7 linked regions of the Homo sapiens genome follow. The protein of the gene in region 5 purifies or fractionates together with the protein of the main gene of each other region. This does not show direct contact. Each region holds a gene or a part of one and is shown on either strand. Other genes may lie near its edges.

Region 1 (3,500 bases), about 11 Mb from region 5:
AACTCTAGGCCCTCTCAGACTGGGCCAAACACAACCAGGACCTGCTCTTATGCCCTCTTACAGACTTGGGCTGATCAAGTACTTCAGGGCTCTCCTAGCAACGTCTGAAAGACCAAAATCAACAGGTCTGGAAAGGCAGAGAACTCTGTTGCCAAATTTCGGTCCAATTCCAGGCTCCATCAATTAATGGCTCTGTAATCATGGGCAAGTCATCTAAGCTCTGTGAGCCTGGTTCCTCGTCTATAAAACAGGGATGACAATAGCATCTATCTTATACTCATCCTTAGTGTCAGGAAGCTGGGAAGGAATCAGGACATGGATCAGCAATGAGAGAGGCAGCACTCTGAGCAGCTACACCGTGATGGGCATGCGCTACCTCCTATGCCACTATGATCGCATTTCATCACCAGAGAAACTCTCCCTATCCCATTTTGCAAAGAAGAAAGAAAATATTAAATCATTTACACATGCTGCCCAGGACCATACAGCTGGGGACAACGGCAGCAGCTACCATTTACAGGAGACCTTTGTGTTGTGCCAGGCCCTCTGCTTGGTGCCTTACTGTCACATTTAAATAGCGTAACAGCACCATGGGGTGAGTTCATTCCCTTCTTTGTTCAGAGGAGGTAACTGAGGTGCAAGTGAAAGGAGAATGGTTGGCCGGGCGTGGTGGCTCACGCCTGTAATCCCAGCACTTTGGGAGGCCAAGGTGGGCAGATCCGAGGTCAGGAGACAGACCATCCTGGCTAACACGGTGAAACCCCATCTCTACTAAAAATACAAAAAATTAGCTGGGTGTGGTGGTGGGCGCCTGTAGTCCCAGCTACTTGCGAGGCTGAGGCAGGAGAATGGCGTGAACCCGGAAGGCAGAGCTTGCAGTGAGCCAAGGTTGTGCCACTGCACTCCAGCCTGGGCAACAGAGCGAGACTCCGTCTCAAAAAAAAAAGAAAAAAAAAAATTAAAGGAGAACAGAGCCCACAGTAATGTTCATTAATAACGCCACCATGGAAGAGGCTCCAGAGACCACAGCACCTCATGGTGTACAGCCAGGGTCCGGGAGGGGCTGGGGGCTGTTTCTGTTTGCGCTGTGTCACTAAGGCTGCATGCCCAGGCCAGTTCACAGTGGGGAATGGAGCAGGGCTCCATTTTCTGAATAAAATCTAAACCCCTGCTCCAGCTGCCGCCAAGAAGAGAAAACCGTCTAATAAAATTCTGGCATTTCCACAGAGCTGTTATCAAGAATATTTATTTCTTCTTCAATGTCTTCTTCAAAGATAGTGCTGACTGGTCTACAATGGAAACAATTCTTGTTTTAAGGACTAGCGCATGAAGAAATGCCACAGGACATTATGTACCTTCCAAGGTCAGCCGGGAAGGATAAACCAAGCCAACTCCCCAAGCATCTCACTCAACAGCTACACTTGCTGGCAGAGGCAGCACCACAATCCAATACTGCAGTGAGGGCTCATTAGGTTTTATGTAGTGTCTGAAATATCAGCCAAAAAATCCCCAACACAACAAGCCTTCAAGTTATGAAAAAATAATGAGTATGTTTAAGCACAGTTACAGAGATTGCATTTCCTGACTTTTAGAGTTAAAAAAAAAAAAAAAACAGGATATAGTTTCTTCTTTTTTTCTGTTTTCCTTTTTGTAAATGCAGCAGGCAGACGGTTTTCTTTTTCCTCCAGGCAGAACAACTGCTCTCCACTCTAGCCCCTTCTCCCTAGGGCTCCCCCTTCACACTCCCCTACACAGAGCCACTTTCCCTGGAACAGGGGAGGCGTGTGGGCAGAGAGGTCAAGGGCAGGACTTGTACCTGTCTTTTGGAACAGAGGCCTCCAGCCTTCCTCACTGTCTAATCCCATCCTGGGCTCCTCTGGCTTGAACTCATGGCCACAGCGTAGACACTGGAATCTACCCAGCAGGAGGTCCCTGGCCTCCCCAAGCTGTTCCCGAGCCACATTGGTGACTGGGGTCAACACGGCAAGCAGCTCCTGACAGAGGGTGGATCAGAGGCAGCTGTGAGCAGGCGGACCCCAGACGGACACCTCCCACAGGCCCCCGGCCCTCAGGCCTGCTGCCACTTCCCTCTGGCTCTCTTAATCCCCACAGCCTCCTGGGCCCCCACTCTGGGCGCCATCACCTGGACAGCTGCGTGGGCATCAGGCTCCAGCACCAAATAGCGACGCAACTGCCGGTCAGGGCAGATGTAGGAGAAGCGCAGACTGAGGATGGGGGCTCCAGGGAGCAGATCTGAGCCCTGCGCAGCAAGAGGGGGACCGGGTGAAAAACAGCAGGGGCGGTGATCAGAGGGATGAGGGGATGCTGAGAGCATGGAGGATGGCAGGACCTCTGAAGCCTGTCAAAGGCCTGTACTGACGTCCAAGCTCCAGCACAGAATCCCTGCTCCTCAGCCCAGCTTCCCGAGTGCTTGCAACCTCTGAGGCTCCCCTCCTCGGCTCCTAGTGCCAAGGAGAGACTGAAAGAAATGCCCAGCCCAGTGCAGGGCACACAACAGCCATGTTCCCATAACTGGCTCCTCCAGAGACCCTGCCACGCCCCACTCACCGTGGGCCTGGGCGACCTCTGGGCCTGGGCCTCCGGCTCTATCTCAGCTGCCTCCAGACTCTGGAGCTCCAGTCGCTCCAAGGTGCGAGCTGCTTGGAGTTCCACCTCAAACAGGTGGGCAGAAGTGACCCTGAGAAAGCATTCCCTGCCCCGTACGCCCTCAGGCCCCTCCAGGGGACACACCAACAAGGGGCGACAGAGTTCCGCTGTGGAGAGACCAAGAGAAAAGGCCTGCAGGGAGGGAAAGTACCCACACTCTGCCCTCCCCCGAACTGGCCCTCCACCCGCCAGGCCCCACCACTCACAAACATCCCAAGGGCCCCTGGCCTCAGCTCGCCCCAGCCCACAAAGGGCTCACCTTCCACTTCCTTCTGGTCCTGCTCCTCTTCTTCCTCCTCTCCTGCCTCCTCTTCTCCCTGTTCCACCATCTCCCCCTCCTCCTTCTCCTCCTTCCCCTCCTTCTCCTCTTCCTCCTCCTGTGGCTCCGCCCTGACCTCCTCTGACATTTTCTGTGGTGACTCCTGGGGGCCTCTGGCTTCCTCCTGCGGGGGTGAAGGTCTGGGTGCAGTGTCGGGGCCCTGGGAGCTGGCTGGAGGTGCACTGGGTGCAGAAGTAGTGGGGGTGGCCGGCAGAGGGTTTCCGGAGGGCTCCAGGTGACTCCTGTACTGCAGCCAGTTGCGGCCGAACCGTTCCCGGAAGCTGCTCATGAGCTCCAGCTCCGGGTGCTGCTGCACGAACCATCCTAGGCAGGAGGGGAACCCAGAACTGAGCAAGCCTGCCCCACACAGATGGCCCCAAATCCTTCAACGGTGCTCCTCAGCGATGAGGGGGCGATGGGCTGTGTATGGGGACACGGGCAAGGGAGGCTACAGGCGTCCCCTCCGCGGCATGTACTAAAGCGTGTCCTATGGAACCCTGTGGTCACATGCAAT
Region 2 (3,500 bases), on a different chromosome or scaffold from region 5:
ATACCTGCCCCTTTAGACCTGGTTATTATTCAACTGTCATTGAGAAAAATGCTTGATTATTTGGCTATATACCTCTCTACCCCTCCTTATTGTTGCCATCCACCATCCTTATTTGTTGAGGACTTTGGGACTTGGCTTGTCCACCCTATTCCCTGGCATAATCATGGGCAACTTTAGGGGCTGCAAGGGCATTTATCCAAGTTCCTGTCCTTAAGGTTCTTTGACATGAAGCATGCCAGCAGTGACAATATGATATTGTGGTTTTGAATCCCAGTTCCCCTACTTCCTAACTATGTAAGTTTGAAAACAGTGCTTAACCTTTTGTGCCTCATTTTCCTCATTTGCATATTGGGGATGATACTATCTGCATATTTGGAATTTTGTGAAGATTAAATCAGAAAATAATGTAAATTATTTTCTATTACTAAGTACTAGTGCATGGCACATAATAAACATTCCATAAATGTTAGCTATTAAGATTATTATTTATATATCTATTTAATAATATCTGCTACTATTATTATTTTAGTTATGTAACCCCTCCAAAAGCTACCTCTTGAGCCTTGCTTTCTCAAATTTTAACCTCTTAAAATTTAAGAGTCAAAGGGACACTGACCATGATTTCCTAGTGTGTACAATGTACTTGCTTAAAAAAAAATAAAATTAAACTTATCAGCACTTCAATTCCAGTGGTTCTTATTTAGAAGTATGTATTAGGAGGTTTTTCAAAAGTCTGGGCCTTCCCTTGGGAAGCTTGACTAGAATGTTATGGAGATGGGGGTGGCATCAGCATCTCTATGTATGATTGCCCTCCCTCCCTCTCTTTTCTAGGTAGTCAGCTGTTTGTTTGCAAGGCTGCTTTTCCTCACCAGTCTCCACTCCATTAATCAGTACTTTAAGCCACTCTCTCATGGCCACTTTTAATGAACTAACACCCTCCCTTGGATGAATCCAATCCTGTCTGCCTCAAACCTGGACTGCTGAAAGCCACAGTTCTCCAGCTATGTGAAATTCACTTATGGATTATTTTGGCTCTCTAATTTTTTATTTGTTTTTTGTTGTTGTTGTTTGTTTGTTTTTAGAGAGAGTGTCTATATATGTCAACCAGACTGGAGTGTAGTGGCATGATCACAGCTCACTACAGCCTTGAGCTTCTGAGCCCAAGAGATCCTCTGCCTTAGCCCCTAGAGTAGCTAGGACCACAGGTACATGCCACCACACCCAGCTAATTTTAAATTTTTTTATAGAGACAGATCTCACTTTGTTGCCCAGACTGGTCCTGAACTCCTGGCCTCAAGGGGTCCTCCTGCCTCGGCCTCCCAGAGTGCTGGGATTACAGGTATGAGGCACTGTGCCCAGCTGGCTCTTTAATCTTTACTATTAGACTGATTTTCATATGACACAGTAGGCATAGGGCTCTTTTAGTTACTAGTGATTCCAAAAGTGACTTTAATCCCATTACTCAGGATCTCTATGGTACTGTCAATTAGATCTTCCTCATTTTTGCAACATGTTTACGTAGCATTAATGATATTATTGTTTCATAAGTGAGAAAATGAAGACACAGAAGGATAAAATAGTTTGTTGCATCAGCTTGCGGGCATAATAAGCAACCTTTCTTCTCTCTGTTAATTCTGTTTTGTAGGCCAGTATAATGGCTTTAGTGTCACTGTTGTTAAGGAGTTTTTGATGGGTTGTTTCTATTTTCTTTTTGAGATGTGAACTGTCCAGATTAATTCTAATCTATAACTTTTGGGAAAAGTATATTGATATACATGTTAGAATGTGTGTGTGTATGTGTGTGTGTTGTGTGTATGTAGTAGATGATAACCTTTAGCTTTGGTTTTCAATAAGAATTTTAAAATTTATTACAATTAGAAAATTTTTCCTCCAGTTTTTATTCAGTTGTCCTTTTTCCCTTTGGAAATAGTGGACCTGACCCAATTCTTTTTTGAGAATTCATTTCATAGAGCAGCGTGTTAGAATATTTTTGTTCTTCTAATCAAGTGCAGTGTAAGAACTGTAGACATCCATAATTTCTTTTCTATCCCTTGGTTAAGATATTAGCTTTATTACTATATTTACTGGTCCTGGAATAGCAAGGCATAATCTGAGGAGCATAGCTACTTCATCTGTGTAATAAATTGCTCTTTCACTACAAACATTTTAATACTGATTTTGTTGGTCATTTAACTTTCTAATAGTGGTCCTTAAATTATGCTCTAAAAGAAGAATACCATATATATTGGAAATTAAATTTGTTGTTGAATAAAATTAGAATTATTATAAAATTCAACACGACCTTATTGCTACCTCAGGATAATTTCTTGGCAAAAAGTTGATCCAAACTGGGTGTGGTGGCTCATGCATGTCATCCCAGCACCTTGGGAGGCTGAGACAGAAGGATTGCTTCAGCCCAGGAGTTCCTGACTCAAAAAAAAAAAAAAAAAAAGAAAAGGAAAGAAAAGTTGATCTAGGTACCTTCATTTTGTTTTGTTTTGTTTTTTTGAGACAGAGTCTCGCTTTGTCACCTAGGCTGGAGTGCAGTGGCTCAATCTTGGCTCACTGTAACCTTTGCCTCCCAGGTTCAAGCGATTCTTGTGCCTCAGGCTCCAAAGTAGCTGGGATTGCGGACATATGCCACCACACCTGCTAATTTTTGTAATTTTTAGAAGAGACAGGGTTTCACCATGTTGGCCAGGCTGGTCCCGAACTCCTGACCTCAAGTGATCCACCCACCTTGGCCTCCCAAAGTGCTGGGATTATAGACGTGAGCCACCACACCTGACCACCTTCACTTTTTTGATTCAGCATGCTATGTGAGTCTTGGTAAATTGACATTTGGTCTGAAAATAAATTTTGGCTAAGTTCTGATTGAGAGATAAAACATGTAGTGGATTAACTCTTAATAATTATACTTTAAAGTATAATTTCTGAAAGTATTTAGAAGTGAAAATTAAAAACCATTTATAATACATAATGTTAGATTATATATAATGTGCTGAATATTAAAAGATAATGCAATTCTTTTCCTATACTTGATAAGAAAAGAAAGACTATAATTTTGGGGAAAATAGAATGGAAAGGGAAGAGAGAGGATGGGGAAAATTGAGGGAGGGGTTATGTTAATTCCTTAGGGCTGCCATAACAAATTACCACAAAGTGGGTTTTACAGCAGATATTTATTCTTTCACAGTTCTGGAAGTTAGAAGTCTTGAAATCAAGGCGTCAGCAGGGCCATGCTCTCTCGAAAGACTCTCAGGGAGGCTCTTCCCTTGCCTCTTCCAGCTTCTTCTGGTGGTTGTCCACCATCCTTGGTGTCCCTCAGCTTGTAGGTGCGTCACTTCAATCTCTGCCTCTGTCATCACGTGGTGGTCTCCCTGTGTGTCTCTCTGACCCACATTTTCCTATTCTTATAAGGACTCCAGTCTTATTGGATTTAGGTTTAGGGCCCACCCTAATCCAGTATGACCTCATCTTGATTCACAGATTTTGGGGGG
Region 3 (3,500 bases), about 61 Mb from region 5:
TTACTTTTTTTGTTGTGAATACGTGGAGCCTTCAAGCTTAGGTCTCCTTGCAGCTCTGGAAGGTACAAATATCACCCTATTAGGTTGTGGAAGGGAAAATAATCTCTTATGCTCTGCTCCTTGATTCTTTTTCTGATTATTCTAATTTACATCTCAAACTCTTAGTCTGTTGCTGTGTTCTGAAAGGTAAACCTCTGATACTGGGCCAACATGAAAAAAAATGAGGGGAAACGCCATGTGTTTTTATTCTCCCTTTTGTGCTACATGACTGGATTTACACATATAAGACTCCCCCACCCAGTGTAAGTCTGTGGAATATTTAGAATTATAGTAGTCATAGCAGAGGGCCATTTTATGCTTTGCTGTCTTCATCACAATAATCATCAAAGCATTTATTATGCACTGGGCATATGTTCCCATGTCAGGTTTGAGCAAATTTTGTGTGGCGCCTCTCATTTAGGAATTTCCAGTTTTGCTAGATACTGATGTAGGTAGTAATATTTGAAATATAATGATGAGCAAATATTAAATTAACATACAAATACGGTTAATAGATAAGAGTTTCTCTTCCTAGGCCATGTGACTGGATTTATACTAGACATAAACTTCCCCCACCCAGCATAATTGTATGAAATATTTAGAATTACAAGCTGGGCACGGCGTTGCACGCCTTTAATCCCATCACTTTGGGAGGCCGAGGCAGGTGGATCCCTGGATCCCAGGAATTTGAGACCAGCCTAGGCAAGATGATGAAACCTTGTCTGTACAAAAAAATACAAAATTAGCCAGATGTGGTGGTGCCCACCTAGATTCCCAGCTACTCATGAGGATCACCTGAGCCCAAGGAGGTTGAGCCTGCAGTGAACTGACATTGCGCCATTGAATTCCAGCCTGGGCACAGAATGAAACCTTGTCTCAAAAGAAAAAATAAAAGAAAAAAATAAGAATTTTATATAATAGTCCTAACACATAAGTATGATTAGTAGATTCACTTAAGCAGGGGTTCCAAGACTTGCACAATAGGGGAATCTGTATCATTACTCTGTTAGGGAAAACTTTACGGAGAAAGTTTTATTTTTTAAGAGTACTTTGTGGCTGGGTGCGGTGGATCATGCCTGTAATCCCAGCACTTTGGGAGGCCAAGGCAGGTGGATCACCTGAGGTCGGGAGTTCAAGACCACCCAGACCAACATGGAGGAACCCCGTCTCTACTAAAAATACAAGATAAGTCGGGCATGATGGCAGCGCCTGTAGTCCCAGCTACTCGGGAGGCTGAGGCAGGAGAATCGCTTGAACCCGGGAGGTGCAGGTTGCAGTAAGCCAAGATCGCGCCATTACACTCCAGCCTGGGCAACAAGAGCGAAACTCTGACTCAAAAAAAAAAAAAAAGTACTTTGAATTATATGAAAAAATTTAAGAGCACATCTTAAGACTATATCAAGATGGAAACAAGGTGATTATTAAAAAAAACTATTGGGGCCCAGCACGGTGGTTCACACCTGTAATCTCAGCACTTTGGGAGGCCAATGCTGGCAGATCACTTGAAGTCGGGAGTTTGAGACCAGCCTGGCCAACATGGTGAAACCCCGACTCTACTAAAAATACAAAAAAAAAGGGCCGGGTGTGGTGGCTCATGCCTGTTATCCCAGCACCTTGGGAGGCTGAGGCGGTTGGATCACTTGAGGTCAGGAGTTCGAGACCAGCCTGGCCAACATGGTGAAACCCCGTTTCTAGTAAAAATATAAAAAATTAGCCGGGCGTGGTGGTGGGCACCTGTAATCTCAGCTACTTGGGAGGCTGAGGCAGGAGAATCGCTTGAACCTGGGAGACTGAGGTTGCAGTGAGCCAGGATTGCGCCATTGCACTCCAGCCTGGGCAACAGGAGCGAAACTCTGTCTCAAAAAACAAACAAAAAAATACAAAAAATAATTAGCCGGGAGTGATGGCAGGTGCAATGGTGGGCATCTCTAATCCCAGCTACTCTGGAGGCTGAGGCAGGAGAATCGCTTGAACCTGGGAGGCGGAGGTTGCAGTGAGCTATCATGCTCCTGCACTCCAGCCTGGGCAACAGAGTGAGACTCCATCTCAAAACAGACGAAGAAACACACACACGAACAAACTTTATTGGAACCGTTTTTTGTCACCAAGTACTGTTAAAATCTCAGTGCTAAAGCAATAAAACAGTTGGGTTTAACTGAGTCTGTCTTCAAGGAATTTATATTGCAATTGAGAGGATAGATATAATTGAAATATGTAAATACTGTAACAACATAGTTTATGAAGAAACAATAAAATTAGTGATATGGATAGTGCTGTGAGCAGACAGAAGTGAGAGAAAAATATAGACTGAAGTGGTTGGGAAAAGTTTGTGGAGAAACTGGGTTTGAAACCTTTGAAAAGGTTGGTGGAAAGGATGGCATGGAGTTATCCATGTGAATAGACAATTAGTTTATCCTATCAGATGTCACGTTTCGAGCTTGCTTTCTAAATGATTCTAAAAAATACACGTATCATGGTACTTAACATTACTGCACTACTTTGGATAGTTCAAATGACAACTAATCATAGTCAAAATGGACCAGCTTTGTTAATTTTCAGTTTATACTGTTATATCAAGTGCTTAGTATATGAGATTTCTGATAATATGCAGGTTTATTGACTCCTAGATGTTCCTATTCAGTTTTAAAACATTTGGGAAATTGTCAGAATATCAACTGTTCATTTCTTAGCTCTCTAGTATTGAATAATTTCACTGAATCATAGTATTTTATAACCATTATAACCTTGTATTATTTGAAAATCTTAAAATATCTTTTACCTGTATTTTTCAAACAGTTTAAGATTGGATTATAATGAGGCCTGAATTTCATTGAAGAAGACAATATATTTTTCTTTATTCAGTAATATTTTATATTCGAGTAATGTGGGGAGAACACTAGAATTATATATTGGATTCAGTTTTTGTTTATATTTTTTTTCCTATTTGTTACCCAAGAACTGTTATTTAAAAAAAATTGCAAGCTAATTTTCAGTCTTTCAACCAAAAACTTTTTTTTTTTTGCTTCTAGACTTAAATCAACTATGTTATTGATGTCAGAGGACCTAACTGGCGAGCAAGCCCTGGCAGTGTTGGGAGCAATGGGAGATATGGAAAGCAGAAACTCATGTCTGATTAAAAGGTATCTTTTCTGAAATTTACGACGTTAAGTTTGTTGTCATTCACAAGCACCTATTTTTTTCTAAGGAAAAATGGTTTTCTTCTTTAATCTACCAGTTGTTTTGAAGAAATAAGGAATTAATGCTTAAGCCACTGTTTATGTTCTACTTTGTTTTTCTTTTCTTTTTTTTTTTGTTTTTTTGAGACAGAGTCTCACTCTGTTGCCCAGGCTGGAGTGCAGTGGCACTATCTCTGCTTACTGCAACCTCTGCTTCCCTGGTTCAAGCAATTCTCTTGCCTCAGCCTCCTGAGTAGCTGGGACTACAGGCGCCCACCACCATGC
Region 4 (3,500 bases), on a different chromosome or scaffold from region 5:
AGCACGTCCTCTGGGAGCCCCAGCAGCGAGGCTGCCGTCCTGACAGAGTCTGGGAGGGGCAAATCCTCTTTAGGCAAATCACTCTCCATCCAGTCCTCTTCACGAGGCACTGTGAAGTCATCACAGCGGGACCATGACTTGCCCAACTGGACAGAAGAAACCTAAGTTCTGATCAGTGAAGTGACTCACCCAAAGGACTCCATAAACAGCAGTCAGAACTCAAACCCAGCACTTTCATGTACCAGTCCATGCTGCCATGTATGGGACAAATCACTTTACAAACCTCTGACTCATTTTCTCATCTTTAAGATGGGGACGATACTGTCTGCCTCACCAGACAGGGTGAGGAGTAAATGATCCAGGGCCAGGCCCTATGGTGGGTGGCATAAGCAAGGGCATCAGATTCCAATTTTCACCATCCAGCCTTCCACCCAACCCCAGCAATGCTGGCTACCTTCCTGACAGGGCCTGCCCCATCCTACACCCTGACCCTCACACTTGGCATCATCCATCGGCTGGCAGGGCTGGGCTTCATCCTCGGAGGCAGCAAACTGGATATTGCCAAGGTGCAGCAGTCCAGCTAGGACCTGGGGGAAAGAAAAGGATGGGTGGGAGTAGGAGAGGGCGTGACGTGGGCCTACTCTGGGAAGGGCCGTTCTGCTGAGTACAATCACGACAGCAGAAGGGCAGCTCCCAATCATGGCCCAAGTGCCCATCTCTGCCAGACACAATTCTATACAAGTTACATGCATCGCCTCATTGCAACTTTTCAACAACCTGTAAGGTATGTGCTACGCCACTGCCTATGATAGAGATGAGACTGAGGACACGTGCTTCCTGAGGGGAAAGGTGGGATGAGAACCCAGGCTGACTTCAGATGTCTCCTGGGGCAGCCTGTGGGCCTCCATGCCCACCCATCCTCTACATTTCTGCCCCCTGCTCTCTAGGAATAGACTGGTGACTGGGGGCAGGGCTGCTTCTGTGTGCCTGCTGGAGGCTTGTCTCTGCTTCCTTGAGCCCTTTCCCACTGTCAGGCTTCTGAGAGCCCAGCCTGCTGGAGGCACTGTGACCTTGGTCTGTGTCCGATGGGTGCCCCTTTGCCTTTGTACTCAATGTTCCACACCGACAAGCCCCCTGGGGCTATAGACAGAAGCTCCCCTCACCCCACCAAGGCCCAGCAACTTCAAAACCCTCAGACCCAGCTAGGCATGGTGGCACACGCTTGTAATTCCAGCACTCTGGGAGGCTGAGGCAGGTGGATCACTTGAAGTCAGAAGTTTAAGACCAGCCTGACCAATATGGTGAACCTCCATCTCTACTAAAAATAAACACACACACACACACACACACACACACACACACACACACAAAATTAGCTGGGTGTGGTGGCACATGCCTGTAATCCCAGCTACTCGGAGGCTGAGGTAGGAGAATCACTTGAACCCGGGAAGAGGAGGTTGCAGTGAGCTGAGATTGTGCCACTGCACTCTAGACTGGGCAACTAGAGTAAAACTCCATCTCAAAAAAAAAAAAAAAAAAGAAAAAACCACCACCCTCAGACCTGACACAGGGACCCCACCCACCATTCCTATATGGTCCCAGGCAGGGTGCCTCCATGTGCTACTGGTCTTCCGGCCACAACTTGCTCCAGAAGACTGCCATGCCCACCAGGCAGAAGGGCTGTGGCAGAGGGTCATGCCCACCCCCAAAGCACTCCTGCCCCGACTCCCAGTGTTGTCCACTTATCCTGGGCTTGTCCCCAGGTACTGTCCTTCTGTCAAGTTCTTACCTGGCAGTGTCTGAGCAGCCCCCATCTGGAGGTGAGGGTCACTTTCCACTGCATTGCTACCTCCCTGAAGTGGCCTCCCTTTCTCGACTGCCAGGCCATCCTATCTATCCCCTCCTGCTGCTCTAGAGGGTGAGGAAGATGAGAGGAGGTAGTCAGCTCTGTCAGCAAAGACAGAAGGGAGGCCCCCCTAGTGTGACTGAGAGGAGCCCAGCTCACCTGGGGCAGTCTCATGTTCCAGAGGACGACGGGGCACGGGTTGGGGGAAGACAGAGAGGGTAGGAACTTGGAATTACTATGTCTGGTACTCTGTATCACCACTTAGTGGTATCTGACCTTGGGCACGTCACTTTACCTCTCTGGTTTTCTCAGGCATAAAGGGAAATAAACACACACAGAGGACTGTTTAAAAAACTAAGTGAGCAGAGAAGTGTGAACATGACTTGTAAGTTTTAATGTACTAGACAAGCAAGGCGGTAGCACTAGTTCTCTCTTCTGATCATGCGGTACCTTGCTCTCTGCCCCCATGGATCACTTACTGCATTCTGTACTCTAGCACTGTGTATGCATCACTCTTCCTTATGCCCCGTCCACCCCACCACCTGGTCTCCAGACTCAGCAGAACAGAGGTGACTGATTCCTTGGAGGTAGCACAGAAGGGCCCAAAGTCCTAGATCCTCAGGGAAAGACCAACTCCAAGTCCAGGGAAAAGCTCTATGCAAAGGGCTGCCCGTCATCTCTGCCAAACTTAAGTGGCGTGGCTTTTCTTCTGACCTTAAAGATGTTGTTCTGGGTAGGGGTGTCAATGCCCAAATGGAGCATGGCCTCTCTGGTCACCTCAAAACAATCCTCTGAAAAAGAATCCAAGTTCGGGGCAGAGGTCAGCAGCAGCAAGATGCGAGGGAGGCAGGCTCTGTACAGAGTGGGTGGGTGATGCTGGGTCAGCGCAAGGTGCTGGATGGGGCTCCCCTTACCTTCTAAGCTCCTCTCTGGGTTGGGCAGCCAGGAGAAGGCAGCTCCCTCAGGAAGGTGCCACTGGAGCCTCTCGTCCTCACTGGCTCCTTTGCAAATCTGTGGAGAAGGGTAGGTGGGAGGCTGGGTAGGGGGTCTGAGAAAAGCCCAGGCCTGCATAGGCAGGCATGGGGTTGGGATAAGAGGAGAGTTGGTAGCAACATCACAAGGCTCAGAGGTCCCTTCCGAGAGCCCACGGCAGGTATGGGGGCAAAAGATGCCGTAAACATAGCCCTGGATGTCTCCAACCTGATGCAAAAGAACCTTGCTCTAGGGAAACCTGCAGTCTGGTGAAAAAAGGACAACTCCTGCCCAGGGAGTCCGTCGTCTTGACGTGGGAGGCATACCCATCACCTAAGGATGCTCCGATTTTGAGAGAAAGGGAGATATCCTATCCATGCCTTGGGGGACTCCCAGTCCGATGGAAAAGGCACAACTCTAGGGAAGCCCTTGTTCTGTTAGCGACAGATGCCATTCTAGGAGAGCCCTTAAAATGATAAGAGTGACACGGCTTCCACCCTAGAGATACAGTCCCAGCCTCAAGGACCTTCTGGTCTGATGGAGGAGGTAAAACATACTCCCAGGCCACAACTGTGCTGGGAGCCAAGGCGCAGTGTGAGGCAGAAGTGCTGCATGTAAAGTCTGCAGGATAAAGTGGTGGCTCCATCAAAAGCTAGGTGAAGGAACCAGGTATGGAGCATTC
Region 5 (3,500 bases):
GGTCACTCCTCCACATCCACTTCCACCCCTTCATTGACGCTCTCTTCCTCACCCTTCCCTCCATCCACCTAGGAGGAGGTGTACAGGGTGCCACTTGAACACAGCAACAGCGGGAGCTGCTCCTGAGAAGGCGACTCCTGTCCGTCCATGGCTCTTAGGCCAGCTGGGAAAGCTCTCAGGCAGGAAGCAGCTCAGCCAGGTTCCCCACCCACCCTGCACTCCCTGCAGGCTTCAAGCCTAGGGCCACGGCTCAGCTTCCCCTCCTTTTCCTCTTCCTCTTCCTCCTCCTCCTCCCCACAGGTCCAGGTTTATCCAAATGCTTCTCTTCTTCCCCTCAGGTCACCACCCCTCCCAAGCCCTTCAGCCCCCACTGAGCCCAGATCCTACAAGTAGACCTCAGTTGCTTTTCCTCCTGAAGACCTTGCTCACATGAAGTCTCATCAGTTACTCCTCATCCCACTCGCTCTGTCATGCAAAACCACCCCACAATGGATCCTTCTCATCATTTCACTCTCCGGAGCAGCTGAGTCATTGGGAGGCTTCCGCTGTCACTTGCACTCCTCCTCCAGATCCGTTGAGAAGCCATCCAGGCGTGACTCAATTGTTTACAGTTTCCTGGGACCAGCAGGGACCCCCCCTTGCCTTCTTTCTCAAGGCCACACCCTTGTGCCTAGCTGCCTCATCTCCCTCCCAGCTGCCAGGGAGGGACGGCTCCATGGGCAGTGCCACGGGTGCCAGCTGCCCAGCCAGGATGCAGGTGAGTAAGACAGCACCTCCTCCACCCTCCTATGGTGGAACCAAGGCAGGCCTGATTCTTTGCCATTGTTTTCAAGGAAGCTAGCTGTAATGAGCAACTTCCCAGTCTGTTTAAGATAGAAAGCAGGTCGGGGTCTCCCCGCTCCCAGGCCGTCTCTCACTGTCTCTCTTCACCCTGGGCCAGCACCAACACTCCGTGCTGTGGACACCCTGATGGTGATAGGGGAGGGGCTGTGTGCTTCCAGCCCTGGGCCTGTCTTCTTCCTTCCCCAGAAGTGTCCTTTCCTCTCCCCCCTCATGGCTCTTGGATGTCATCAACACCCCACTCAGTCATTTTGCAGTCTTCTCACGGGCACGGAAAGGTGTGGCTGGCTTCCTTCACCTTTCTGAGGCTCACTGGAAACTTGGGGTGATCCATGCTACTTGCCCAGCCCCAACACCACCCCTTCTTGCTGTCATCTCAGTGAGGCTTTTGGCAACACAGTTCCAGAAGGGACTGGAAAATGCAAGTCTGCTCTGTTCTGGGACACCCAAACTAAAAAGGGACTTCACTCATCCCTACCACCCCACCTCTGCCCAAGACACTCTCCCCAATAACTGACTCTCTTGGCTCCCTCCTTTACCTCTTTTCTCTCTCTCTCTTTCTTTCCAGAACCTCCCAGTCGAACAGGAAAATGGGGAGAGTTGGAAACAGCCTTGTTGACATGGTCTCATTCTCTTTCTCAATTCTTCTGCTCTATAGTTTTTGGACTTAGAAATCAGTAATTCACCTGGTCTGTGGGTTCTTCAGAGATCCCTGAACACTGGGTGGTATAAGCTGTCTGGGCAGTGGAAAAAAGGTCTTTGGGGTATAATGAGCAAAGCTGGCACTCAATGGGCATCAAAGGGAAGCACATCAGTGAAGATGGTGCGGATCATCCCACCACATCAAAACCCTGGAACGCGATATCCGTTACCAGAATTCAGGGCCAGGGCTTTCTTCCCCTGAACAGGATGTCCTTCCGTTAGCCCCGGGAGATCGTGGTGTCCTGCAGGACCAGCTGGACCCTGGAAGGCCGGTGGGCCCTGATGTTCATGCGGAATTCTTTGATGACAAAGTAGTAGCAGAAAACATCCAGGCAGCAGTTGACGTTGGAGAAACACATGGACAATTGCAAGAAGAAGCTGATGCTCTGCTTGGCTCTGCACTCTACGATAAAGCTGTTTCTCACCAGGAACTGCAGGAAGAACCCCAGGTGGACTGGGAGGAAGGAGACCACGAAGACAGCCAGGCTGGCTGCGATGCTGTAGATGCAGGCTTTCTGCTGCACCCAGTCCTGGGTGTGGTCTCGGCGGCCCAGCAGGATGTGGATGCTCCTGGAGCAGCAGAAGCCCATGATGCCCATGGGAAGGAGGAAGCCAAACACCTCCAGCGGGAAGAAGACCTTGGCGCTCCAGGTATCATCAGACATGTTGTGGAAGCACATGTATTTTTCCACTTTCCCATGGAAACTGTAGATAGGGATGCTTCCGGTCCACACCAGGACCCAGATGGTGCAGCAGATCCCAAAGATCTTCCTGGGGGACCGGAGGTGGCTCACCAGTAGCGGGTAACGGATGGCCAAGAACCGGTCCATGCTGATGAAGCAGATGGTGAAGACGCTTCCGTACATGCTGACGAAGTAAAGGCACTCCACCAGGGTGCACAGGGACGGGAAGGGGGACTGTACCTGGGACAGGACCATCTTGAATGGGAGGGAGAGCACCAGCAGCAGGTCAAAGACTGCCAGGTTGATCATGTAGATGGAGGTGGCAGCATAATCGGGCCACCTGTTCTTAAGGAAGGTGCTGAAGCCATGGATGGCCAGCAGGTTGAGGAGCAGGCCCAGGACGAAGGTGGGGATGTGGACTGCAAACTGTAGGGTTTTCATCAGCTCGTTGACACCGTCAAACAGGCAGTCCCCACTGGTGTTTTGCTGACTCATGTTTCTTCCTACAACACCAACAGATCAGACGGGGCTCCTTTCACTCTCTTGAAGTGATGGATTCAAATGACTTTGTCAAGAATCACAAACACCTCCCCAGCATCACACAGCAATTCATGCCCATTGAATCACAACTAGAACACAGAAAAGAAAAATTACCTTTAATCCTGCTGCCCAGATGCAACCACTGTTACTTTTTGTGTATATCATTCCAGACTCGCTTTCTCACTCTCTTTCTACCATACACACATTTTTCTTTGACAAATATAGAACCTGCTGTGCATGGACATCTGTCTTTTAAATCAGAACTCCTTTTGTTGAAAGAAGTAACAGCACATACCCAGACCCAAACAGGCTGAAGCAAAGAGACAGTTTCACATAATGGAAAACATGAAAACTAGGGTAGGGCTGACTTCAGGAGCAGCTGGATCAGGGATTCAAATGCTGTTTCCAGGACTCAGCTCCTTTTGTCTCCTTTGTCCTCCTCCCACCCACTTTCCTGATGGTTGGACACAGTCAACCTGCAACCAGGGATGATTGACACCAGAGCGTTGCATTCCCCTGGACACAGTAGCTGGTTAGTTCATTGGTTCAGGGACAGATATTTGACTCTCCAAGAAGCCATGATAATCAACACAACTTTTGCTTGGGTTTCCAGGCAGAGGGTTGGAGTCCCTTGTCAGGGATTCATAGTTGCCAAGATATAAGGTCTGCAGCTGCTGCAGCCTCTTGTACCCCAAAGAGAAAACCAGACAGAAAATGGAGAGATATGGGAGAAAT
Region 6 (3,500 bases), on a different chromosome or scaffold from region 5:
TCACTGCAACCTCTGCCTCCTAGGCTCAAGTGATCCTCCCATCTCAGCCTCCTGACAGTCCCACAGGCGTGCATCACCATGCACAGCTAATTTTTTTATATTTTTGGTAGAGACAGGGTTTCACCATGTTGCCCAGGCTGGCCTTGAACTCCTGAGCTCAAGTATCTGCCCGCCTTGGCCTCCCAAAGTGCTGGGATTACAGGTGTGAGCCACTGTGCCCGACAGTCTTTTTTTTTTTTTTTTTTTTGAGAGAGGGTCTTGCTCTGTCACCCAGGCTGGTACAATCATGGCTCACTGTAGCCTCGACCTCCCCCAGTTCAGGTGATCCTCCCACCTCAGCCTCCTGAGTAGCTGCAACCACAAGAGCAGAACCACACCTGGCTAATTTTTGTGTTTTTTTTGTACAGACAAGGATTTGCCATGTTGCCCAGGCAGGGTCTCAAGCAATCTGCCCACTTAGGCCTCCCAAGGCACTAGAATCATAGGTGTGAGCCTCTGCACCAGGCCCAAGAACCCAAGTCTTTTACCTTTCAGGTGAAAGGGTGGGAGTGGGGGAAGGCGGGGCCCCCAGGGACAAGGCTTCAGGGGCCAAGCAGCCATGGGCTGAGGGATGTTACCTTTCAAGAACTTTGGGAACAGCATGTCCAACACTTCGTGTGTCTCCTTGACGACGACCCAGCTCTCTTTCTTAGGACCTGGGTACGGGGGTGCAGAACCAGAAGCTCTGTGTCCTCCAGCAGGACAGAGTTTGTCCTCTCTCCTCCCCACCCTGAGGCATCAGCAGTCTAAATCTTGAGGCACTTACCTGCCCGCACCCGGTTCCTCAGCTCCTCCAGCTCTGCTGGAAGGGGTCCATCTCCCTGCAGGGCCCCAAGCATCAGCCCATGTGTGGCGGCCCTTAGGATGGTCTTGGGGCCTGCCTTCTGGTTCAGAACTACCTGTACCTGGTCTGGAGGGACCCAGAGACAGACTGGTATCAGGGAAGGGCCACCTCCCAAACCCCTTCTATCCCATCACCCTGCTTCCCCTGTCTGCCCCAAGACCTTGGCCTGGCACGGAAGGCTAGCACCTCACCCTTTCCTTTCCAATTCATCTCCTGTTGCTCCCCAATGTTCGGGCCAAACTGACCAATTTCCAAATACAATTTCCCAGCCGCTCACTGGGCTGGGTCTATTTTGCATTTCTTTAATGGCTAGTGAGAATAAGCACCTTTTCACACTCAACCAGCGGACCAGCACACTCAAGGACTTGTTTACCCAAGAGGCAACCCAGGATGGAGAGAAGGGTGGTTTCCCACGGACAGCAAAGGTCATAGCCTTCCTAAGAGTGCTGCAATGTAGCTTTGCAGTCACATTATTTGATCCTCATAAAAACACCGCAAGGAATAAGGCAGGTACTGTTAGCTCTGTTTTACAAAGCGGTGACATGAATTTCACTGGGGCATTGCAGCTGTAATTTGAACGGTCTAGAGCAACCCCCAGAACAGGCAGCCTCCAAACTGCCCAGAGCTCGGGGCCCTAGGTTGGAGGAATGAGAGGCTGACCTGGGAGGGTGCGTCTTAGGCTGGGAGAATGAGGCACACTCACTTTGTGACTGGTCCCAGCAGAGGAGGTAGGATTCTTGGTGCCCCTCAACCAGCTGCTGCAGCTCAAAGACACTGTGGGGGAGAGGACAGTGCAGTGGGGGTGGAGGACAGCAAAGGCAGGCATGCCCAACCAGCCACTGAACAGCCACCCAGTGAACTGAAATGATCCAGGCTTCACTCAGGTCCCCTCGCTTCCTCTCTCCCTCAGCCATTACCCATACACACCAAATCCATCCTTTCTTCCTGTATCCAGTCATCCAACTTCCCCATCTACCCATCCTTCCTTCACCCATCAAGCACATCTCTTACATCTGCTTCATGTTATACACCCTTTCCTTCCTCACACACCCACACCAACCCCATGTCTGTTCAGCAGCAATGAAGAACCCAGGACAGAGAGGTGGGGCCTTGCCAGGGAGGCCAGTGTGTAATCGGAGTGAGGGGAGTGTGGGTGGCGGTGGTGACGAGCGGGAGACGCTAGGCCACTCACCTGGAGACCAAGCGGTGTAAGGGGACCCCCAGGGATAGAGACGGAGCTGGCCAGAAACCTGTGGGAAGCTGGGGTCAGGATGCCTAGGCAGTGGGAGAGGTTGAGACACAGGACCCGAGACCAGGGGCAGGGTCACCTGTCCACAGCGGCTCCATGCGATTGGCTGCAGTTGGGTCGAGTACCTCTCCCCTCTGAAGGTAGTGCTTCAGGACCAGCCGGAGCCGGCCTTCGTTCAAGGTCTCCATGACCAGGGCTCGGACCGCGCGGTAGTTGGCGTAGATGTGGAGGGCAGTGAGGAAGAAGAAACATCCAAGGCTGAAGCTGGGGTGAGAGAGTGAGGTAGCTGAAGTGGGCAGAGGCCCAGCTGGGGTTCTCCTGCCCACCCTGCTTCCGGCTTACCCAGGGCAACCTGACACCAGAGGGAGCATCAGGAGGCTGACCAAGAGCCCCGCCAGGTTCACCAGCGTCTCCTGGAAAATGGCAGAGGGAGAAGGAGTTGGAAGGTGCCCCTCCAGGCCAGACTGAGTGCCCGAGTGCCTTTCACCTCATCCTCCCTGCTCCACAACCTCCCAGGGCTCCTTACTGCAATGTGGGTAAATTTTTAGTTTTTGGTGGGTGAAATGTCATTTAAAAGATGCCAGCTCGAGGTGGCTCACACCTGTAGTACCAGCACTTTGGGAGGCTGAGGTGGGCAGATCACTTGAGTCCAGGAGCTTGAGACCAGCTTGGGCAACATAGTGGGACCCTATTTCTACAAAAAAATTAAAAATTTGGTGGGGCATAGTGGCTCGCGCCTGTAATCCTAGCAATCTGGGAGGCCGAGGTGGGCAGATTCCCTGAGCTCAGGAGTTCAAGACCAGCTTCGGCAACACGGTGAGACCCATTGCATTTTTGTAAAAATACAAAAAACTAGCCAGGTATGGTGGCGCGTGCCTCTACTCCCAGCTACTCAGGAGGCTGAACTGCTTGAGCCTGGGAGGTGGAGGTTGCAGTGAGCTGAGATCACGCCACTTCACTCCAGCCTGGGCAACAGAGCAAGACTGTCTCCAAAAAAGAAAAAAAAAAAAATTAAGCCATGATTGCACCACTGTACTCCAGCCTGGGAGACACAGTGATACCCTGTCTAAATACATATGTGTATCAGTTGCTTTTTTGCCCAGGTAGGTGCCCTCGGAATACCCTTGAACACATCTTGTCTTGCAAGTCACCAGAACAGACCCACACTCAGGCACTCACTAATGTGTACTTTTTTTTTTTTTTAAAGAGCGAGGGTCTCGCTCTGTCACCCAGGCTGGAGTGCAGTGGTGCAATCATAACTCACAGCCACCTCAAACTCCTGAGCTCAAGTGATCCTACCACCACGCCTCTGCTAATTATTACTGCATTTTTTGGTAAAGATGGGTCTTGCTATATTGCCCAGGCTGA
Region 7 (2,369 bases), on a different chromosome or scaffold from region 5:
CCTTGGGAATGTGGCTAGTACACTCCAGGCCAGATGCTAGGCAGCTCCCTGTGTGCCCAGGGTCTTGCCAGACCTTTAGTTACTCAACCATAGCTTCCCAGTGGCTCAATGAGGGATGTTAAATCCTAGGTGGGGTTCAGGAGTAATTGCATCCAGCACTACTTTCATTCACATTTTCCTTCCACAACCCAGAATAACCACAAGATGTAAGTGGAGTCTACACAGACAGAGATGGGGAAAGGAAGGTGCTTCGTCTCCACCTACTTGGCCGCCTAATTGGATTTGCATCTGTTTAAGATTACGGAGTCTTTCTTTCAAAGTGAGAGGCAACGCCGGTCATAGCGGCTTTTGTTTTTTGTGCGTTATTTGAATGATGAGCTGTAAAAACTCTCATTAGATAAAAGGTGCCTGAAATTCAAGGGCTCATGCCTCTTCTACAAAGTGGGTTGGCAATTACAGAAATTCTTTCCCTTTTGGGTTGACTGTGGTGAAAGTACTTTTGCTCTTTTGGAGGTGAGGGAGCAGCACCACACCAGGACAGAAAGAACAGGCTCAGGTGACAGCCACTTACTCAGGCTCAGGTCGGTGGGCAAGTGGGCACTGGCCTCCTCCCATCTTGGCAAAGCCACTGACAGTAGGCAAGGAAGGGCTGGGCGGTGCTGCTCGTAACAATGGCTCTTGTATGTCCTTAGAATTTTCATTTTTTTGTGAAGTGCTTTTACTTTCTCTCTGGCTCACAGTATCGCAAGGAGCTAAGTAAGGCCTGTATGGAATCTCCACTGTATCCATGGGATGGGAGGTGCTGAACACACGCCCAAGGCAACAAGGCCACTCAGGGAAGGAGCCAGGCCATGCCACTGCGTGCCTTCCATCCTACCAAGCTGCTTCTGCTATTCTTTGCTTTACACTTCAGCTCATTTACTCAAGGAAATGAAATGAAGTGGCAAACAGGACAGAAATGAAAATAGAATTCTTTAAGTGGTAAATTTGGGACAATAAAGGCATCAATTAAAATATGGTTCAGGAATAGGGAGAGGTGCTCCTTCGTGCCTCACAGAAGCACGGACAATTCTGTGCTATTTATTGTCTTTGAAAGAGGGTTCACTCAAACCTCTGCCGCAACACCTCCAGATGCACATTCGGTGTCTTCTGTGCTGAGCTGGCAGATGCCGGGGAGGGGTGCTGTGCCCCTCACCTGCCTGCCAGTCACAGTCAAGGGTCTCCTTCAAGGTGCTCTGGGCCCATGTTCTGTAGCGACATGGGGGATGGTTGTGCCACTGCCCAGGCAGTGATCAAGCCTTTGTGACGGCCCATGGGGCTGGGCCTGCCTTGTGCTGTGCCTGCTCTGAGGCAGCTGGGGCTGTGGTGGGGAGCCAGGGCCTCATTCTGTAAACCCAGTGCTGGTTCTCTGGGAGTCTGCAGCCACAGGCACGTGGCACATATTGGTCCCTAGTTACATTAAGGGCAGGGGTAGGATTTGCATCTGTTTAAGATTACAAGGACTGGATGAGTTCTGAAAAATTCATAATTCTGAAAACCTATTAGTTTATTTAAAATAATGGATGGCATGTACCTATATATGTAGATAAGTCTCCTTTTAAATTTTTTTAAAGAACCAAAGAATCCTACAAGCCCCCGTAACACACATACTTGAGTTCCAGATACTCATCAATGCCATACTTGGACCCCTCTCGCCCAAGGCCGGACTGCTTCACTCCACCAAAAGGGCACTCCACAGAGGAAATTAATCCTTCGTTGACGCCAACCATGCCCACTTCCAGCTGCTCTGCCACTCTCCAGATCTGGGCTGGGTCTTGAGAGTAAAAATAACCTGTCACAGGATAAAAGGACATATATGGCATTTAGAAGAGTCATTAAAGACATCATGCCTAAAGATGAGGGCACCATTGATGACTTTTTGTCCAGCCACTTGGGCCTGGAGTCTTCCCTGCTCCCAGATAAAGTCCCAGGTTGGTCTTGTCCACTTTTTCATCTCAAAACCTTTGAAAGTCACCTCTTGCTTCAATTCTACTCTCACTATCTCCTATCGAGACCCTCTTCCTGTTTTCTACTATTCAATCCACCTGCACACCTGTTAGATTTCCACACGACATTTTTGCCCAAGCCTTTCGATGACTCCTGATTATAAAATAAGGTTAAATTCATTAGTGGGTATTCAACACCCTCTCCCCCACAAGTAGTTTCAATCAACATTTCTGGCTTCATCTTCCATTACTCCAATCACCAACCATCCTCTCCAAACCTGTCAGCCAAATTCTCCTCACCCTTTCTTACTTTGCTTCTCAACTCCCTTGGTGCCCTCTGCCCAGAATCTCTCTCCTCCAGCTTCTGCACAACCAGAATTCTGC

What was found.
Region 1: the proteins of GPR55 (region 5) and STK11IP purify together in Homo sapiens (affinity purification with mass spectrometry; one large-scale study listed by BioGRID and IntAct). This does not show direct contact.
Region 2: the proteins of GPR55 (region 5) and LPGAT1 purify together in Homo sapiens (affinity purification with mass spectrometry; one large-scale study listed by BioGRID and IntAct). This does not show direct contact.
Region 3: the proteins of GPR55 (region 5) and FASTKD1 purify together in Homo sapiens (affinity purification with mass spectrometry; one large-scale study listed by BioGRID and IntAct). This does not show direct contact.
Region 4: the proteins of GPR55 (region 5) and MYO19 purify together in Homo sapiens (affinity purification with mass spectrometry; one large-scale study listed by BioGRID and IntAct). This does not show direct contact.
Region 6: the proteins of GPR55 (region 5) and RUSF1 purify together in Homo sapiens (affinity purification with mass spectrometry; one large-scale study listed by BioGRID and IntAct). This does not show direct contact.
Region 7: the proteins of GPR55 (region 5) and ALDH5A1 purify together in Homo sapiens (affinity purification with mass spectrometry; one large-scale study listed by BioGRID and IntAct). This does not show direct contact.

Annotation. Positions count from the first base shown.
Region 1 is NC_000002.12:219,607,857-219,611,356, reverse strand, and holds part of STK11IP (serine/threonine-protein kinase 11-interacting protein), read right to left. Parts: intron 3,311-3,500; coding exon 2,927-3,310; intron 2,775-2,926; coding exon 2,569-2,774; intron 2,261-2,568; coding exon 2,144-2,260; intron 1,995-2,143; coding exon 1,817-1,994; intron 1,487-1,816; coding exon of another isoform or gene 1,476-1,486; exon of another isoform or gene 1,231-1,475; intron 105-1,230; exon of another isoform or gene 1-104. UniProt on the Homo sapiens protein: May regulate STK11/LKB1 function by controlling its subcellular localization.
Region 2 is NC_000001.11:211,796,264-211,799,763, reverse strand, and holds part of LPGAT1 (acyl-CoA:lysophosphatidylglycerol acyltransferase 1), read left to right. Parts: intron 1-3,500. UniProt on the Homo sapiens protein: Lysophospholipid acyltransferase involved in fatty acyl chain remodeling of glycerophospholipids in the endoplasmic reticulum membrane.
Region 3 is NC_000002.12:169,556,866-169,560,365, reverse strand, and holds part of FASTKD1 (FAST kinase domain-containing protein 1, mitochondrial), read left to right. Parts: exon of another isoform or gene 1-1,442; coding exon of another isoform or gene 1,443-1,453; intron 1,454-3,068; coding exon 3,069-3,179; intron 3,180-3,500. UniProt on the Homo sapiens protein: Involved in the down-regulation of mitochondrial MT-ND3 mRNA levels which leads to decreased respiratory complex I abundance and activity.
Region 4 is NC_000017.11:36,510,869-36,514,368, forward strand, and holds part of MYO19 (unconventional myosin-XIX), read right to left. Parts: intron 2,858-3,500; coding exon 2,761-2,857; intron 2,638-2,760; coding exon 2,561-2,637; coding exon of another isoform or gene 2,501-2,560; exon of another isoform or gene 2,218-2,500; intron 2,016-2,217; coding exon of another isoform or gene 2,006-2,015; intron 1,912-2,005; coding exon of another isoform or gene 1,790-1,911; intron 588-1,789; coding exon 497-587; coding exon of another isoform or gene 491-496; intron 50-490; coding exon 1-49. UniProt on the Homo sapiens protein: Actin-based motor molecule with ATPase activity that localizes to the mitochondrion outer membrane. Motor protein that moves towards the plus-end of actin filaments. Required for mitochondrial inheritance during mitosis.
Region 5 is NC_000002.12:230,908,243-230,911,742, forward strand, and holds part of GPR55 (G-protein coupled receptor 55), read right to left. Parts: intron 2,855-3,500; 5' UTR 2,721-2,854; coding exon 1,761-2,720; 3' UTR 1-1,760. UniProt on the Homo sapiens protein: G-protein coupled receptor that binds to several ligands including 2-arachidonoyl lysophosphatidylinositol or lysophosphatidylglucoside with high affinity, leading to rapid and transient activation of numerous intracellular signaling pathways.
Region 6 is NC_000016.10:31,491,392-31,494,891, forward strand, and holds part of RUSF1 (RUS family member 1), read right to left. Parts: intron 2,546-3,500; coding exon 2,475-2,545; intron 2,397-2,474; coding exon 2,212-2,396; intron 2,134-2,211; coding exon 2,076-2,133; intron 1,658-2,075; coding exon 1,587-1,657; intron 950-1,586; coding exon 806-949; intron 696-805; coding exon 618-695; intron 1-617.
Region 7 is NC_000006.12:24,532,969-24,535,337, reverse strand, and holds part of ALDH5A1 (succinate-semialdehyde dehydrogenase, mitochondrial isoform 2 precursor), read right to left. Parts: intron 1,832-2,369; coding exon 1,626-1,831; 3' UTR 1-1,625. UniProt on the Homo sapiens protein: Catalyzes one step in the degradation of the inhibitory neurotransmitter gamma-aminobutyric acid (GABA).